Linked DNA regions of Homo sapiens: region 1 is linked to region 2. Evidence: fine-mapped expression QTL. A gene starts in region 2. The other region holds a variant in brackets. All regions are shown on one strand. Distances are from middle to middle.

Region 1 (5,375 bases), 970 kb after region 2:
ACAGGGTGAGACTCCGTCTCAAAAAAAAAAAAAAAAAAAAAAAAAGAGACTGTGAGAACTTAACGGAAAAGAGAAAACTGTGTAGAAGTTCCACAAACCTCTTTAAATTCCAAACTTGGATTGAAAATCAGTAGTGAATAATTTGCATAAAAATTGCAGTAAAAAATAAATTTGGAAAAGTGTCAGCTGTTCCTTGCCTCTGCTGTGGCAAAAAAAAAAAAAAAAGTCCTCTTGTTTTACTGTATTATTCAACTATTTTTTTCCATTTGATAGTAAAATTTCTTGCATATGTCTACTAAGTTATTTTTCTAGCTTCTTTTTCCATCCTTTTTAACTATTCATTTGCCACTATAGGTTTCACTGATGAGAAGTCAAGACAGAGGAGTAGAGTGATGATATTAGGAGGGCATGGTTTGAGAACAAAGATGGTATCTTGGACTAGCATGAAAACACTTATCATAGCTTTTCCAAAAGGCTCAATGCAAAGCAAACAGGAAAATAAAACCCATATCCCAGCTTCTCACTTTGCAGGGGGAAACAATTGGACCATTCATCCAACTTTCTAACTCTTCTGGGGGCTGTCCAAGGGACTGGGCTTCTGTCTAACCTGTCTCAAATTACTGACAAAACCCATCATATTCTAGATGCCTGAGAGATGCTTAAAAACAAAAGGCAGCTGGGACTAGTATGAACGTTTGAACAGCCCCCGAGAATCTCTGACCAGGCTGATTGCTAAGGGTCTTCTGTATGAGGCCAGTCTTGAAGACTAAGAGAGATAGTTATTTTTTCTATTGCACAGATACTAAAATAAAGAGTAAAGAAGAAGAAGTAATAGAGAAACATAGTCCAACAAAGAAGTAAGAGCTCCAAAATGGACCCTTATGAAATAGTAATATTTGAATTACCTGACAGAGAATTGAAAATAACCATCATAAAAATGCTCAGTGAGCCAGGAGAACAATACATGAACGAAATGAGAATTTCAACAAAGAGATAGAGAAATTTTTAAAAGAACCAAACAATAGTCTTGGAGCTGAAGAATGTAATAATTGAACTAAAAATTTCAATAGAAGTGTTCAACAGCAGACTAGATCAAGCAGAAAAATCAGCAAACCCAAAGACAGATCATTTGAAATTATCTGACAAGAAGGGAAAAAAGAAGAAAGAGTGATGAACGTTTAAGGGACGCATGGGATGCTATTAAGCTGACCAATATTTGTAATATGGGAGTTGTAGAAGCAGAGGAGAAAGAAAGGGTCAGAAAGCTTATTCAAATAAACAAGGGCAAAAATTTCTCAAATTTGGGAAAGAAAATGGACGTCCAGATCCAAGAATCCTAACAGACCCTGAGTTAGATGAACTGAAAGACTTCAACACTGAGACACATTATAACCAAATTGTCAAAAGTCAAACACAAAAGAGAATTTTGAAAGCAGCAAGAGAAAAGTGACTTATCATGTAGAAAGAAACCCTTATAAGATTATAACAGTTTTTGCATCAGAAATCTCACAGAAATGGGATAATATATTCAAAGTGCTGAAAGAAGAAATAAACTATCAATCAAAAATACTATATCCAACAACTCATTAGTAAAGGTAAATATATACAGGCAAATACAAAATACTATAAAATGAAAATAGTGGTATTTAAATAATTTTAATTTTAATATGAAAGTTAAAAGACTCAAGTATTAAAAACAACATTAAAATATGTTAATGAATATACAATACAAAAATAAGTAAATTGTGATGTCAGTAACAAAATGTGGGCTGGATGTGGTGGCTCACATCTGTAATCCCAGCACTTTGAGAGGCTGAGTCAGGGAACTGATTGAAGCTAGTAGTTTCAACAAGCAGTTACTAGCTTGAAGCTGGTAGTATGCCTGAGCAACATAGTGAGACCACATCTTTACCAAAAAATTTTTGTAAAGATGTGTGGTGTGGTGACGCATGCCTATAGTCATATCTACTCAGGAAGCTGAGGAGGGAGGGTCACTTGAGCCTTGGTGTTTGAGGTTACAGTGAGCTAATCACACCACTGCACTCCATTCTGGGCAAGACAACAAGATCCCATCTCTAAAATGAAAACAACAATGAAACAATGAACAAAATAAAAATAAACAAACCAAAAAGAAAAGTGTATGGGGATGGCTGGGCGAGATGGCTCACGACTATAATCCCAGCACTTTGGGAAGCCGAGGTGGGCGGATCACCTGAGATTGGGAGTTCAAGACCAGCCTGACCAACATGTAGAAACCCCATCTCTACTAAAACTACAAAATTAGCCGGACGTGGTGGCATGCACCTTTAATCCCAGTTACTTAGGAGGCTGAGGCAGGAGAATCACTTGAACCCGGGAGGCAGAGGTTGCGGTGAACCAAGATCATGCCATTGCACTCCAGCCTGGGCAAAAAGAGTGAAACTCCGTCTCAAAAAAAAAAAAAAAGACTATTTAGAAAAGTGTATGGGAACTAAAAGTGAAAACTTTTTGAATGCAATTGAAGT[GAAGTT/T]ATTATCAGCCAAAATAGGCTGTTATTACTATAAGATTTTTATATAAGCCTCATAGTAAGTGCAAATATAATAGCTGTCAAAGATGCACAAAAGAAAAAAACGAAATAATATTTTTTTAAAAAGACAGCAAACTAGAAGAAGAGGGGCAATACAACTAAAAGACAGACAGAAAACAACTCTCAAAATGGCAAAATTGTCCTCCCCTATCAATAATTATTAAATATAAATGGATTAAAGCCTCCAATCAAAAGATATACATACAGTTGCTGAATGGATTGAAGAAAAAGACCCAACTATATGCTGTCTACAAAAGACTCACTTCAGATTTAAGGACACAAAGGCTGAAAATGAAGGTATGGAAAAAGATATTTTATGTTAATGGTATTCAAAAATAGCAGGGGTGGCTATAGTTATATGAGACAAAATAGACTTTAAGTCAAAAACTCACACAAGTGACAAAGAAGTCATTATAAAATGATAAAAGGGTCAATTTACCCAGAAGATACTATAATTATTATAATATATACACCAAACATCAGAGCACCTAAATATATAAAGCAATTATTGACAAAACTGAAGGGAGAAATAGACAGTGATAGAATAATAGTAGGGGACTTCAATAAACCACTTTCAATAATGATTAGAACCTCCAGACAGAAAATCAATAAGGAAATAGTAGACTTGAAAACAGTAAACCAAATAGGCCTGAGAGACATATAAAGACTATTTCACCCAATAGTGCAGAATATACATTCTTCTCCAGCAAACATGGAACATTTTCTGGGATAGATCATATGTTAATGCACAAAACAAGTCTTAACAAATTTAAGAACATTGAAATCATGCCAAATATCTTTTCCAACCACAGTGAAATAAAACTAGAAATTAATAGCAGAAGGAAAACTAAAAAATGTATAGAGATGTTAAACTACACAACACATTCTTGAACAACCAGTGGGTCAAGGAAGAAATCAATGACCAGGCGTGGTGGCTTATGCCTATAATCCTAGTGCTTTGGGAGGCTGAGGTGGGAGGACCAATTGAGGCCAAGAGTTTGAGACCAGCCTGAGCAACTTGTCAAGACCCTATCTCTACAAAAAAAAAAAAAAAAATTTTTTTTTAATTAGCTGGATGTGTTGGTACGTGCCTGCAGTCCCAGCTACTCAAGAGACTGAAGCAGGAGGATGGCCTGAGCCTGGAAGATCAAGGCTTCGGTGAGCTGTGATTGCACCACTGCACTCCAGCCTGGGTGACAGAGCAAGACCCTATCTCAAAGAAAAAGAAAATTTAGCTGGGCATGGTGACACATGCCTATAATCCTAGCTACTCAAGAGACTGAGACAAGAGAATCATTTGAGCCCAGGAGTTCAAAGTTACAGTGAACTATGATCACATCACTGTGCTCCAGCCTGGGCAACAGAGCAAGACTCTGTCTCAAAAAAAAAAAAAAAATCACACAATCATCACAATAGATATAGGAAAAAAGCATTTTACAGAATTCAATACACTCTCATGAGAAACTCTCAACAAACTAGGAATAGAAAGAAATTATCTCCACATAATAAAGTCCAAATAAGAAAAACCCACAGCTAACATCATATTCCTTTTTCTTAAAGGTGAAAAGCTGAAGTTTTTTTCTTTAAGATCAGGAACAAAGCAAGGATGCTTATTTTCACTACATCTATTCAACATAGTACTGGAAGTCCTAGCCAGAGTAATTAGACAAGAAAAGGAAAGAAGAGGCATCCCAATCAGAAAGGAACAAGTAAAAAGATCTCTATTTGCATATGCCATGATCTTATATGTACGAGAGCATGGTTAAGGGTGGGGAGCAGGAGGTTTATTCCTGTTCCTTTTTTCCCCATCTAGAACCATCACTCAAAAGTATCAAGTAATCAGAAAATAAAACTTCAAATTTAGCAAATTCTAAGGAAATGACCAAGCTCAGGAGAGCACCTTATTTGTATTTCATTTGTTTATAAGGTAATCTCAAATGTTGCCTGGGAGTCCTAGAAGTGTTTACTGGAATAGTAATGGATACAGAGTTGACCCTTGAGCAATGTAAAAGTTAGGGGCACTGACCCTCCATGCTGCCAAAAATCAGCATATAACTTTTGACTCCTCTAAAACTTAACTACCAATAGCCTACTGTTGAACAGAAGCCTTACCAGTAAAATAAACAGTTGATCGACAAATATTTTGTATGTTATTTGTATCATATATTGCATTCTTACAAAAAAGTAAGCTAGAAAAAAGAAAATGTTATTAAGGGAATCATAAGGAAAAGAAAATATATTTACTATTCATTAACTGGAAGTAGATCATCATAAAGATCTTCATCCTCATCATCTTCACGTTGAGTAGGCTGAAAATAAGGAGTCAGAGGAGGGGTTGCTCTTGCTTTCTCAGGTATGGCAGAGGTAGAAGAAAATCCATGAATTAGTTGGCTCACACAGTTCAAATTCATGTTGTCCGAGGATTCACTATATTCATTGCTTCATAGATAGATAGAGATACAGATATACACAGAAGTAATTAATGGGAAAAGATATATTTCCAGCATTTAAGCTCCATGAAGGCAGAAAAAAAGTGTAGTTGGCTCATCATTCAATCGCTAATTCATTCATTCAACAAATATTAATCAAGCATTTGTTGTGTGCCAAGCACTGTGCTTGCACTGGGCATTTATTTTGAAGTGGGGTATGTTTCTATTTTTAAAACATTCTGGCATTGTGTGGAGAGTGACTTAGAGAAAGGCAAGGGGTGAGCAAAGAGACCAGGTAAAAGCCTACTGCAGTCTAGCCAAGAGATGACGGTGTTGCCCTGTATGGATGGTGATGCACTTACTGCAATGGGGAAAGCTGG
Region 2 (5,375 bases):
TACAGGTGTGAGCCACTGCACCTGGCCTTTAAAAAAATTTTTTTAGACATGGGGTCTTACTATGTTGGCCAGGCTGATCTTGAACTCCTGGGCTCAAGTGATCCTCCCACCCTGGCCTCCCAAAGTGTTAGGATTACAGGCGTGAGCCACCACACTTGGCCGACTACTCCAAACAATATGTAGTCTGCCACACACCAACTTGTTTTTAGGATTAAAAATGTATTTTCAAATATTCAGTGGACCACTGGCTTATTTTGATAAAAACAGAGCTCTGCTTAATGGCTACACTGCTATACGAGTTGCATATGTTCCTCAATATTCCTTTTGGTGCTTCCTGAGCCATCTGATACAGCTTAGAACATTGGGAGGACAAGACGGTTGAGAAAAAGTAAATGACACCTTCCTAGAAAACTCATAATATAATGAGGCACATGTTCCATGTTAGAGTGCTGGAGAGGTGGGGAAGGTTTTGCTTTGTTTTTTGAGGTCATATGCTTGATTTCAGCAGAAAGGATGGAGAATAGGGAGAAAAAACAGAAGGGGCCCAAGGCTCCATGCCAGGCTTCAGGGATGAGCAGCCTGGGATCTAGCGAGGTTTAGTAATTTCCCAAAGTCATCCCATTTAAAGAGTCAGAGGAATAATTTAAATTTTCCATATTTGTCTGGCCCCAAAGCCCATACATGTTCTTTCTTGTGCCCATTGCTGGTTCTCCCTGCAAAAAGGGACAGAGAGAAAATAAAGGCAAGAAAGGGAGGTCTTCGATAAAGGGAAAGCTGAGAGGCAGAAACACCAAGTGCAGGAGGTAAGAGAGAAAGGAAATACTAAGAGAGAAAGCGAGAGGACCAAAAAAGAAAACGAAAAAGGAGGTAAAAGTCCCTCACTGGTGGTCTTCCAAGTTCCCTGAGGTTACCCTCGAAGCCACAGGCCCCACCTTCCGATGGAAGATTAATCTGGAGGCCGGGGACGCCGCCTACAGGACGGAAGAGGCCAGGAGAGAGAGGTTCAGGCCCCCGCCAGGCTCCCACCGCGGGAAGCAGGCTCCCGGGGGCGGCCCCGGGAGCTCTTAAAAATATCAGCGCTTGCCGGGCGCGGTGGCTCATGCCTGTGATCCCAGCACTTTGCGAGGCCGAGGCGGGTGGATCACCTTTAGTCATGAGTTCGAGACCAGTCTGGCCAACGTGGTGAAACCCCCGTCTCTACTAAAAATACAAAAATTAGCCAGTCGTGGTGGTGGGCCCCTTAATCTAAGCTACTTGGAGGCTGAGGCAGGAGAATCCCTTGAACCTGGGAGGCGGAGGTTGCAGTGAGCCGAGATCATGCCATTGCACTCCACCCTGGGTGACAAGAGCGAAACTCTGAATAATAATAATAAAAAAAAAAAATCAGCGCTCGGGCGGTAGGGGTGGGGGAGGTGGCAGTGGTTCACACCTGTAATCCCGCATTTTGGGAGGCTGAGATGAGCGGATCACCGGAGATCAGGAGTTCAAGGCCAGCCTGGCCAACATGGTGAAGCCCCGTCTCTACTAAAAACACAAAAAAAGCCGGGTGTGGCGGCGGGCGCCTGTAATTCCAGCTACTTTGGAGGCTGAGGCAGGAGAACTGCTTGAACCCGGGAGGTGGAGGCTGCAGTGAGCCGAGATCGCGCCACTGCACTCCAGCCTGGCGACAGAGCAAGACTCCGTCTCAAACAAACAAACAAAATCCCACAAAAATTAGCTGGCGTGCTGGCGCAGGCCTGTAATCCTAGCTACACGGGAGAATGAGGCAGGAGAATCGCTTGAACCCGGAAGGCGGAGACTGCAGTGAGCCGAGTTCGCGCCCTTGCACTCCAGCCTGGGCGACAGAGAGAGACTCCGTCTCAAAACAAAAACAAAAACAAAAACAAAAGCAAAAAACCAAACAAAAAAATCAGCGCTCGGGCCCCCTCCCATGGCCAGCTCTTGGGGCGGGGGACTGGTAAGGGAGGTTTACCCCAGCTGGTTCTAACGTGCAGCCGCGCTGAGAGCGCAGCGGGCGGTGTGGGGCGAGGGGCCCCAGGAGGAAAAAGAAGCCTGCCCCGGGAGGATGCCGGTCCCCGCACGGTCCCACTCAATGGACCCACTCCAGCCGCGCGCTCTGCCAGGGCCTGCGGCCAGGGTACCAGGCCCTCGGCACCTTCCACGTCCAGCGTGGGTCCTCACGGGCAGGTGCGTCTTGGCATCGGGAGGAGGGAGACTGGGGCACTGGAGTCTGCAGCGCCGCCTGGGGCCGGGGCTGGAGCCGAGCGCACGCCCAGAGCTCCGCGCTTCCGACTGCAGCCAGAGCCCGCCGACCCCCGCCCCACTTTAAAAACTTGGACTCGGGCGCCACGTGTTCACTTCCCCCACTGTGCTTTAGTTGAAAAGGGTTTTGTGACTTTTCCACTCGATTGCCGCCAAGCGGGCTATTACGCCGCTTCTGACCCCACCGTGGAGACGCGGGGACTAGAGTGACCATGCCTTCTTCGGAGCGAGCTGTCTCCATCATCCGCTAACGCGCCACCTTTAAAAAACAGGCACAACGCGCAAGCGACAAAGTCAGAGGCAGAGAGCGGCGGAGCACATGATAGAAAAGGTCGAGAGGCACATTCAGCGCCAGGTGGGTGGCTTTTCTCTCCCGCTAGGAGAGCCCAGGGCACCCCATGCTCTCCCTGTGCACCCGCGGCAGTTCGGCACCCCGATCTCACTCTTGCTCCCGCCCCCACAGCGCCTCCCTCGGCGGCGGGGGAAACGGATTAAGTCGTCCGTGTACCCTGGGGACGCACGAGGGAAAGCCCCGGTCCCCCCTCCCGCAACGTCACTCCTCCACCGCGCCACGGCCCGGCCCCGCCCTCGCCGTGAGCTCCGGGGGCACCTGCCGGAGGCTGGGTGCCGGGAGACCGGAAATGCGTGGCTCCGGGCCGGGGCCGCCCGCCCCCGCGTCGCGGGCTCTTTAAGGCCGGCGGTTTTCGCAGCCAGCCCGGGGCGGGGAAAGCGGAGCGCGCGCTCCACGCGGGACCGCCTCCCGGGCCGTAAGTACCGGCGTGGCGGCGCCTCAGCCCGGCCTGGGCGAGCCCTGGGTGCTCCGCCGGGCAGCTCACGGCGCCCCGTATGGCCTGGGGATCCTAAGAGGCCCTGTGACCCCCCTCGCCTGGTCTCCCTCTCACCCCTGGAGGGTTGCCGCAGCTCCGGGGCCCCCGGGCAGGAAGGGCGCACTGGTCGTCCCGGGAGAGGGGTGAGTGGGGGGCAGCTATAGGGGGAGTTCGGGGAGGCCTCCGAGTCCCCGCTGTCCCCGCGAGCCGCTTGGAGGCCCCCAGTGTCGCTCACTTCCAGGGTCGGGGAGACGGAACTGCGGCGACCATGTATTTCTGGTTTATCAAACCGCTAACACCCAGTCTAAGGGCAGGTTCTGTCCCATTGTTATCACTATCGAAGCAGCCGATGGAGGAGGGGAGGTGGGTAGCGAAACCGTAGCGAAAGAACCCGGGCCGCCCGGCTGGCTGCAGCTGCAGTCCGGGCGCCCGGGTCTGGGTTGGAAGCGCTGCTTTCCGCGCTGCTCTGGGGCCCTGGGCGATCACCGCCGCTTCCGCCGCTTGTGTAGTTCTGAATTCACGGAGTGGTAGCAGTGCAGTGTATAGGGTATTCTGCGGAAGTTGGAATGTTCTGGGCTTTTTTTTTCTTCTTCCCCAAACACATCCGTTGACACAAATTCCGAGCCAAATCTCACTCAGATTCGGAAGAGCCATGCAAAAGAAATTGGACAAAGGCTTCCTCCACCTGTTTCTTTTTTTCTTTTGAACTTGTAAACGACCTTAAAAGCATTTGGAGTTAGTTAAGAACAGATAATGTATCTTTTGGCCAGAGCGTCACCCAGGATTCTTTTGCACGGCAGGTCTGAGCAGAGGGCGGGGTGCAGGCGGAATGGCCCTCGTGCCCTATGAGGAGACCACGGAATTTGGGTTGCAGAAATTCCACAAGCCTCTTGCAACTTTTTCCTTTGCAAACCACACGATCCAGATCCGGCAGGACTGGAGACACCTGGGAGTCGCAGCGGTGGTTTGGGATGCGGTAAGTAAGCCCTGGGGGACCTCTGAAAACGTTCACACTTGCAAGACTGGCTTTTATTTTTTATTTTTTTTAGAACAGCTTTATTGAGATATAATTCACATAGCATACACTTTACCTATTTAAAGTGCACAATTCAGTGCGGTTTTAAAAATACAGTATATTCACAGAGTAGTGCAACTATTACCGCTTCAATTTTAAAAGTTTTACTATCACTGCCACTCTCAAACCCGTATCCCTTAGTCACTCCTCTTGTCCCTCCACATAGATTACATTTTAAAGGTGTAAATGAAAGCTGAGGAAAGTTAATGACTTGTCGGAGAGGATAGGAAGGAAAGCCCCCAACTGCTTTGGACACGAGTTAGTCTTTTTTTCTTTTGAGACATAGTCTCGTTCTGTTGCCCAGGCTGGAGTGCAGTGGTGCGATCCTGGCTCAATGCAGCCTCCGCTTCCTGGGTTCAAGTGATTCTCCCACCTCAGCCTCTGGAGTAACTGGGGCTACAGGTGCACGCCACCACACCTGGTTAATTTTTGTATTTTTTGGTAGAGATGGGGTTTCGACATGTTGGCCAGGCTGATCTGGAACTCCTGACCTCAAGTGATCCACCTGCCTCAGCCTCCCAAAGTGCTGGGATTACAGGCGTGAGCCACAGCGCCCAGCCGAGTTAGTCTCTTTATTTCACAGAGTATTGTAAAGTGGCAGAGCCCAAAATGGAGATTATGTGTTTTCTTTAAGTTTTCCATAGTTGTAATTGTTAAAAAATTGTAACTGCTTTTTAACTTCTTCCTCTCCCTGCCCTGTTCTGACTTGAGCCCTCAGCATCTAGCCCCACACCTAGGACTCAGTGGGAACTCAATTAATGTTGAATGCATGATTGGCATAAATACAGTTTGACAGTTTTAACATTGTTAGGGATGTTAAACACGTAGGAATAAAAATCTCAATATATTCTAATGTAGTAATACCACTTCTAGGAATCCAGTCCAGGTAACTACATGGAAGTTACTCTGGTAATAATAAAGATATAGGCCTGGTGTGGTGGCTCACACCTGTAATCCCAGCAGTTTGGGAGGCCGAGGTGGGCAGATCACTTGAAGTCAAGAGTTCGAAACCAGCCTAGCCAACATGGCGAAACTCCATCTCTACTGAAAATACAAAAATTAGCCGTGGTGGCGCACACCTGTAGTCCTAGCTACTCGGAAGGCTGAGGCAGGAGAATCGCTTGAACCTGGGAGGCAGAGGTTGCAGGGAGCTGGGATTGCACCACTGCACTACATCCTGGGTGACAGAGTGAGACTACATCTCAAAAAAA

The links. PIP is the estimated chance that this variant, and not a neighbour inherited with it, causes the effect. A credible set is the group of variants that fine-mapping cannot tell apart.
Region 1: its variant is the best candidate, but not a certain one, in a credible set for the expression of METTL21A in transverse colon (GTEx, PIP 0.73).

Annotation. Positions count from the first base shown.
Region 1 is chr2:206,653,835-206,659,209 of GRCh38, reverse strand. The region is part of intron 11 of DYTN (dystrotelin); the gene reads left to right. Among named protein-coding and RNA genes, the nearest start is that of FAM237A, 14 kb to the right of the region's middle. The variant GAAGTT/T (reference allele first, on the strand shown) is at 2,505.
Region 2 is chr2:207,622,919-207,628,293 of GRCh38, reverse strand. METTL21A (methyltransferase 21A, HSPA lysine) reads left to right here and starts at 2,900. Exons shown (of 4, transcript NM_001127395.5): 1 at 2,900-3,232; 2 at 3,890-4,065. The coding sequence starts at 3,919. RefSeq lists enhancers at 1,027-1,729, 1,730-2,434 and a silencer at 2,705-3,304.